Regions from separate parts of the Homo sapiens genome. Here region 2 is reported to be linked to region 1. The links are microRNA targets in miRTarBase. Many come from high-throughput screens and were not tested one by one. Region 1 holds a microRNA gene; the other region holds the end of a gene's coding sequence.
What was found. The annotated mature microRNA hsa-miR-1252-3p reads CAAAUGAGCUUAAUUUCCUUUU and lies in region 1 at 1,277-1,298, opposite strand. An mRNA with a match to its seed (bases 2 to 7 or 8) in the 3' UTR can be bound and repressed. Matches are read on the target gene's strand: a 7mer-m8 pairs with bases 2 to 8, a 7mer-A1 pairs with bases 2 to 7 and ends in A, and an 8mer does both.

Region 1 (4,400 bases):
CCTCCTTGTCAGAGGACAGAAGTGTGCCAGGAATGTGGAATGAAAAAGCTGGAGGTAACTTTCAGCTTTGAGATAGTGTTATATTGTCTGTCCTTCTAAGATACTGCCCAGAGCTGACTGAGGTGAGAGAGTGGGTTGAAGAGTAACTGAGGTCAAAGGATTTCAACCAGTAAAGAAGGGAGGGACCCATAAACTGGAATGCAGGTATAAGATGCAGCAATTACCAGGATATGCTGCCCTCTTCAGGGTTTTTAAGGGAAAACTCACCAGTTAAAATTGGCTGAACATTTAAAAGTCTAACAGTGCCAACATGGCAAGGATATGAGCAATAGGAAAGCTCACACACTTCTGGTTGGGGTGTTATTTAATACATCTAGGAAATTTAAAAATTGTGCATACCCTACATTCCAGCAATCCCACTCTTATGTAAATATCTAGAAATACTCACCCACATTTGCACAAGGAGCTATGTTGTATTGTCTGTGACAGCAAGAGATTAGAAACAATTCAAAAATCCATTAGCTGACCAACTGGGGTATTTACCTACCATGGCATGTTATACAGCAATAAAAAGTAACAACGTTACTTTAATCAACACAGATACATCCCAAGAATGAAATATGGAGTCAAGTTGCAGAAGGATATATGATACAATTTATATAAAGCTTGAAAATGCACAAAATACATACAGTAAAGTGCCATTTATATGGCTGAAAACATACAAAACCAAAACTGTGTGTGTCATAAAAACATACATTGGAATGACAAACAAAATGAGAAAACAGGGTTGGGAATCATAAATTCAAGGTAACAGTTACCTCTGAGGAGAGAATGAGAGAAAGGAGATAAAGAGGACATAGGCTATTTTGATTATAGATGTTAGGTTTTATTTCTTTAGTGTGATAGGTACAAGAGTCTTCATTATATTATTATTTATACTTACTATTGTAGACCTCAAATATTTCATTAAAAAAATTGAGGTACTCCGAGTCAGATTCAACTAAAATGTATGAAGCACTTGCCATGTAGATAAAGCAGTGCTTTTCCACATTGGGCAGTGTAACAGCCAACACTGGAGAAGTCTATGCTTAGAAATGTAATTGAATCCCATTATCTGGCAACTTCTGCATTGTACCCTCAGATCCTTTGTTAGCCAGTGTGATCCCACCTGACCTGCTGCCGGATACTGTGAGCTTACCACTATGACTGATGAATTCATGGAGAAAGGGTGCAGTGGAAGGAGAAGAAAAGCAAGGTAGATTATTAAGATTTAGAAAAAAGGAAATTAAGCTCATTTGGAATTCTCTTTTCTAAATGAATTCAATTTCCTTCTTTCTACACCTCACATTTTTTCTCAACTTACCAATTTCTCAACAACTGTGTGATGGGAAATGTGAGTAGAAATTTAAAAATTCTTATAGAATCATTAGTCCCTTCTACATAGAGAAAAGGCAAAACTTTCTATTGGTTTCGTTTTGCCTAAAATAAGTAAGACTCAGTGGTCAATTAGTGGGATGTGTAAGCTGAAGTTAGATGTTCACTTCTGAGGCACCTATAGGGGAAGAAGGTACTACCCTCTATCAGTGGTTGTTAACTCTGGCTTCACAGTATAATCACCTGAGTTTTAAAATCTACTGACCCCTTGGCCATTCCCCCAGAAATTCTGAATTAGCTGTTCTGGGGTGGGGCCTCAGGTGTTCATATTTTACAAATATCACTTCCCAGGTGATTCTAACGTGCATACAGCATTGAAAACCACTCTTATCTCTCGGGCTCTGATATACCTGATATTGAACACATTTCAGGGCCATTGGTTACCACGGTTGGAAGAGTTACTGCTGGCCTTTCTTGTCAAGTTCATGACATGATGGGAGAGACCTTGGACAGATGTTTGTTTCCACTAATTGTCTCTCTACTCAGACATCTTTAAGACTTCTTGCCCAAACTCTCTGCTGGAGAATATTCTCTGTGCCTTGGCTCTTTCTTCATTCTTTTGTGCAAGGCCAGGTGTTTTGGAAACAGGCAGGGCTGTGCTATGCAGTGGGGGTGGTGAAGTCACCCACAAGGTCACAAAGATAATTGGTTTACTGTCTAACAGGTTCGGGCTCTTCAAACTCTTGGCCAGCCTCTTGACTTACATGTTGGTTAAAAGAATCATAAATCAATTACTTTTAAGCCTCCCCCTAACCAAAACCCCATTGGAGAGATTGTCAATAACATAAAGAAAAACCACGAATTTGAGAGCTAAAAAGTTAGTGTAACCTTCCATCCAGTGGACATTTTTAACAACACCTTATGAAATGATCATTCGGGCACCAAGTGAAAAATTTTCGCTAATTTCCATGCAAAATACTTCTAGGAAATTCCTATACATCTGGACCAAATGTTAGCGCTGGGACTACAAGGAGCAGCAGTCACTGTTCCAGCCCTTGATGATGGACAAGTGATTACAGGGACAGACCTATAACCAAGTAATTAAATAAGACATGAGACATCTAAGAAGACCTGTACATGTTCTATATACAAGTCATAAACATTAGAAAGAGGACGCTTTGTGTAGATCAGCTTTGCAGGAGAGTTTTTCACAGAGGGAGTAACGGTAGAGTAAGGTTTTTCAGCTTTGTCTTCAATATGTGTTCCCAGCATTGCCTGGGAACTGATTAGAAATGCAGAACATCGGGCCCCATCTTAGGCCCACAGAAGTAAAGTCTTTTTAACAAGATTCTCAGGACATGATATGCAAAAGAAAAACAGAAAAGCACAACTTTAGAGGTTCTCCAGGTTGAAGTGGGGGGTGGGAGTGGGGGGATACTATGATGACAGTTCAGGGAGAGCACTGACACCCACAAAACCTCCCCTGTGTGAATGCATAGTGTTATTACTGCTGGAGCATAGGGTAAATGATGCCATTTACAAGTGATGCCATTTGGAGAGGCAGGCCTGGACCTTGTCATGAAAGGGCTTGCAGAGCATTCTAAGGAATTCGAATTTCATCATGAAGGTAGTGAGAAGCTAATTAAAACCAATTAAATATTTTAAACAGGAGAGAGGCATAATGAGATTTTTGCTTTAGGATGAGGCCATTGGTAGTAACGTCAAGGCAGGAGCCAAGGGGGCTGGGCTTTGAGAGGCTGTTGTCATCAGTAGAGAAGTGGTGAGGGCCTAAACCAAGGCAGGTTGCGGGAAAGGAGGCAGAGGTGGAGATAAGAGAGAGATTTAGGAGGAATGAGCAACAGGGCATATTACTACATGATATTCCACATTTCCTTAAAAATCCTTTTAGAAATACATTGTATGCAATTGGATGAAGAGAAACCAACCACCTGGCCACCTAAGCAATCAACTAGCAAACAGAAAACGCAAACTCTCAATCACCAAATCCTAAATAAAAGTACAATTTAAGAAAATATGATTAGGAGGAAGACACAGGTTTCAATGACAAATTGTAAAAGCAGGGAAGACTAAATGAACATGTTCATTGTTTCTTTGTTTTTTGCTACCTCAAATTTTCAGAGACACTTTTGATAACTGACAATTGATACATGCTTTGCAATTCAGAGTAAGTTACAAATATATCATTGTTAGATATTATAGGAATCTTGAAGAAGAGAAAACACACACACACACATATTAGGATTTTCGTTGTATTTTTGCTATTTATGACTACACAGGGCTTCAGTTTTCTTACTGGCCAAAAAAGAAGCTATTCTTTTATGTTTCCTTGAAAGTGCAATCATTTTTAAGAGTATATTGTACCTTTTATATCTTCTTTCTTTATCAATAGTGTATAATAGAACTTGTTCATCTCAAATTTTCCTTTCAAAGCAGAAATGCATTTCAAATAGTTTGCTGTTTGAAATATTAACATGGCTGATTACTTTTTACTCATTCTTTTAGCAAAAAAATTAGACTTAGCCTTTTCTTTCCATTCTTAGGTTTTAATCAACAATACAAATTATGTATGAGAAGCCTTAGTGTATTATTAGCTGAGTTTTTTAAAAGATATTTGACAAAGCCCAAAACTAAATTACCAATGCTCGCATTTTTCTGAGTCATATTTTTTAATCTTTGAAAAAATAGTGATCATCTGTTATTTTACTACAATAATATGAATATAAACCTAAACTCTATTTAGAAGAGGATCTATACATAAAATGTCAAAATGTTAATGCCAATAAGGTTGTATGTTTCTAAGAAGCATTTGGACATGAAATGAAAATGGCAAAGATGTTCAACTTTTTGTTTTTGCCGTCTGGTCTTGCTGCCATCATTTCCTAAGGGACTTCCAGGCAAATATCTACCATACCTTTTGTTTCATGATCATATGACTGTGATCATGTGACTGTGACACCGTTTCTTATTCAATTCCCTGAACTTGTTTCTCTGCCTTGCCTTGTTTC
Region 2 (4,355 bases), not on the chromosome of region 1:
AGATACTCTGGAGGCTGAGGCAGGAGAATCGTTTGAATCCAGAAGGCAGAGGTTGCAGTGAGCCGAGATCGCACCATTGCGCTCCAGCCTGGGCGACAGAGCCAGACTCCATCTCAAAAAAAAAAAAAAAAAAAAAAAAAATCAGGAGGTTTTTGTTTTTTTGAGACAGAGTTTCACTCTGTCACGCAGGCTGTAGTGCAGTGGTGTGATCTTGGCTCACTGCAGCCTCCGCCTCCCAGGTTCAAGCAATTCTCTCCTACCTCAGCCTCCCGAGTAGCTGGGATTACAGGTGTGCACTACCACAGTCGGCTAATTTTTGTATTTTCACTAGAGACGAGGTTTCACCATGTTGACCAGGCTGGTCTTGAGCTCCCGACCTCAAGTGATCTGCCCTCCTTGGCCTCCCAAAGTGCTGGAATTACAGGCGTGAGCCACCACGCCCGGCCAAGGAATCAGTTGTTTCAGAAACAAGAGCTTATTAGATACACTGAAGAGACCTACTTGAACTATATTTTGCTTTTTCAATCCAGAATACCGGGCTAACGAAGATTTTACTGGACAAGTTTAACTTCCCCTTCACCCTCTGAACAATCACACTATCTGCCTTTTAGAAATGCACTGCCTGAGGCTGGGTTTGGTGGCTCACACCTGTCATCCCAGCACTTTGGGAGGCCGAGGCAGGTGGATCACTTGAGGTTGGGAGTTCGAGACCAGCTTGGCCGACATGGGGAAACCCCGTCTCTACTAAAAATACAAAAATTAGCCGGGCGTGGTGGCAGGTGGCCATAATCACAGTTACTGGGGTGGCTGAGACAGGAGAATCTCGAACTCAGGAGGCGGAGGTTACAGTGAGCCAAGATTGCGCCACTGCACTCCAGCCTGGGCAACAGAGTGAGACTCCGTCTTCAAAAAAAAAAGAACAGAAATACACTGCCTGTTCATTAATTAATGCAGGCAGCTAAGGCCTCTTCTTTTTTCTTTTAAGAGACAGGGTCTCACTGTCACCCAGTCTGGAGTGCAGTGGTGTAATCACTGCAGTGGCTCAAGTGATCCTCCCACCTCAGCCTCCCTAGTAGCTGGGACTACAGTTGTACACCACAGCACCTGGCTTAAATCCTTTATGTGTGTGTGTGTGTGTGTGTGTGTGTGTGTGTGTGTGTAAAAATATGTGTATATACCTGAGGCCAGGATTTTGAGACCAGCCTGGCCAACATGCTGAAACCCCGTCTCTACTAAAAATACAAAAATTAGTCAGGTGTGTTGGTGGGTGCCTGCAATCCCAGCTACTCGGGAGGCTGAGGCAGGAGAATTGCCTGAACCTGTGAGGTGGAGGATGCAGTGAGCTGAGACTGCACCACTGTGCTCTAGCCTGGGCAACAGAGCAAGACTGTCTCAGGAAAAAAAAAAAAGAAAGGAAAAAATGTGTTATGTACACACAGAATTGTTGTAATGGATTGAATCATGAATATCCTTGGCAAGTCTGTGACCTCACAAATGAGTGTGAAACCAGTAACTGAACGGAGATTCATGGCAGAGCTGGGCTTTTGCCAACGGCAGCCTTGCCATGGCCCTGATTCTCCAGGATGGGTGCTGGGAGGTGTGGCTGAGGGTGGTGCGGCAGGACACATTTTAAGAACATGTTAAAAGAACTGTGAGATGCTATCAGAGAAGCAGTCTCCTCCCAGGTTAGCAGGCAGGTGAATCATGAGATCAGTTTCCCTTTCTGGCACACGCGGATAGGGCACGGCAGAGGCAGGGACCACGCTGAGAACAGAAGAGCCTCAGAGTCAGTGTGTGGGCTCAGGCAGGAGGGACTGCTGCATGAGCTCTCGATGGCAGGGGCTTTTGGCACCCAATGTCGTATGTGAGCGGCTCTCCATACACAGCTGGCATGGCCCAGATGGAAGGGTGGGGGCCCTGGCCCGCTCAGAGGAGATGGGCAGCAGCGGTCTGAGAAACACCGCAAGTGGCGCTGTCCCCGGGAGGCCCGGCGGGCTCTGCCCAGCGCCAGCCTCGGCCTTGGTCTGCGTCCCACCTACGCCGAGCCACCCCCAAGCTTCCCCAGACAGGACCATGAAAACAGCCGAGAGAGCAATGACTTAGTGTGTGAAAGGCATGGATGGATTTTATTGATTACCCTATATCTACAATTTGAGGTAAAATAGAAGCAACACATAAAAGGGCCTATTTCTGCTACCATGTCATATAATTCTCCATTGTGAATATTGTGATAAAGCTACTGAAAACTATGCCGTCACAGAGCCTAGCTTCTTGTAGAGCTGGTATTTTACAACTCGCATTGCTTGTGAAATCTCAACACATGTAAGACTCTCCTAGGAAGGCGCAGAACGTCAGAGGTTGCATCCTTAGCCCCCTGACCCCTCCTCACTCCCCGCGCTGGCACCTCAGGGTTACAAGAAGAACTAGGAAATAATGCCGGCCACGGCGACCCCTGGAGAGGGGGCCGGCTAGAACAGCGTTCCTAAGAATCCGCGCCACAGCAGGTCCCGCGATGTTGGGGCCTTAGTGTCATCGAGCTAGCCCCAATCCTCAACCCGATCTTCAACTTCTGGTACACCATGCATTTTATTTGGACGAAAAGTAAAAGTGGAAGAGGTTCTCTCTGTATTTCCTCTATAATTCACACGCTGAGATACTGACCTCTGACTGTTAGGTGATCCAGATGGTTTTGCTTTTAATTATGATAAAAAAACATAGGAACCATGAGAGATAGCTTAGGAAAAGGTTTAGTCAAATATACAGATAGGAACTGTTCACTCAGTCATTAAGGAGAGCCGTGAACAAAGGATCATTTAAATGATTTTTTTTTTTCAAATAGAAAAACTAAAGAACTGAACTATCACAGGAATTTTTCTTCACTGCAGAAGCTGAGATGTTCCAGTAGGAGAAGTAGGAGATATCTTCACTTGATTGGAAAATAAACACCGTAACTCAAGGCTCTGCTGAGTACATAAAAAATCTGGTGAGATTCATTCCTGTCATTTTCCCTGTCATTTCCCAGCATTGCTGTAAAATCCTGATAGTACATTCCCAAGTACACCAGCCATTCCAGACCCACAGTCACTCTGCTCTTTAATTCACAGAACTGCTGAAAAAGTAGACATTTCTATCTAAAAGTAGAAAAAAAGGTTTGTATAGAAGGTATTTCTGTTATACAAGTATATTACACAGCTTGGGGTAGTAACAGGTCCGAAAAGCTCTTCTCAACCACTGATACTTTAAGCTAAAATAGGAGAGAAAACAAACAAGCAAGCAAAGAGGTTAATCTAATTACAGGAATTTAACAGTCACGAATATCACAACTTAATTTGCAAATTCAGGTAACAATGACTTGGATTCAGAAGCACTCATAAAGCGGGATGAAACCTTAAGTCCATGAGCTGACAGGGTAAGGCAAATTCCAGTACAAGTCTCTGGATTAAAAAAAAAAATCCATTGTCAAAGTTTCCTGACTTCGGGTCTCAAGCTACTGCTCCTATTATAACTTGGCCAAATTTAAGAAATCTGGACTAACAGGATCAGACTTGTTAACTCTGCAAGATGAACAAAAGATCTGCAGCTCTGTGAGACTCTGCAAAATACTATTACTATGGAAAAAAAAAAGTCAGTCTAATGATTCTGACTCATAGTGAATTCCAATGAGGAGGACAACGTTGACTCTATTTAGAAACAGAACATTCTTTTTAAGGCAAAAGTGCTTTTACATCTTTGACTGAGAGACATATATTGATCCAAGGAGAATCTCCCTGTAGAATCTTCTAGCTTAAATATCCGGGAAGGCTCCCACCTGGCTCCCACATTCCCTGAAGGCAGGGCCACCATCTTATGTGAAAGTGGGGAGATCACATTAGCTACGCGTATGCAGGGGGTTCAGATGGACACCACACAGCATCCCTGACACAGAAGCTGATTTACCCTAGGAGGGAAGAGGTCTACCACGTGGGGTCTGGTTCTTGCTTGATCTGAGAGCTTCCATCAGTCTCTTTTATTTCTATCAACAGAAACAAAACGGTACCGATTAATTATTTTGCAGACCTGCTCAGTGATAAATCCATTCGTACCAAACTATTTACTAAGATATGGTTTAATAAGAAGGACAAGACACCAAACATCAAAAGAGCTTCAGAGAGACATCTCTTTAGCAATACATTCAAAATTTTGTTACTTATGTTTTCAAAGTAACATACATCTTCTGGCTTACATGCATTTAAAGGACACACGTTAGGTTATCTAGGTTATGTAGCAGAGTCATTCACGGAGAATTTACCAAGTCATCTGGGGGAAATGGAGCAAAAGCAGCTATGCGTCATCACTCAACAGCATAACCTGCAAAT

Region 2: miRTarBase lists GTF2I as a target of hsa-miR-1252-3p. Seed matches in the 3' UTR shown: 7mer-A1 at 2,815-2,821.

The regions. Positions count from the first base shown.
Region 1 is chr12:79,416,194-79,420,593 of GRCh38, reverse strand. It overlaps MIR1252 (microRNA 1252), which reads right to left and starts at 1,337; the gene lies at 1,273-1,337. The region is part of intron 9 of SYT1 (synaptotagmin 1); the gene reads right to left.
Region 2 is chr7:74,758,437-74,762,791 of GRCh38, reverse strand. It overlaps GTF2I (general transcription factor IIi), which reads right to left. Exons shown (of 35, transcript NM_032999.4): 34 at 3,937-4,012; 35 at 2,100-3,244. The coding sequence ends at 3,954. Among named protein-coding and RNA genes, the nearest start is that of NCF1, 13 kb to the left of the region's middle.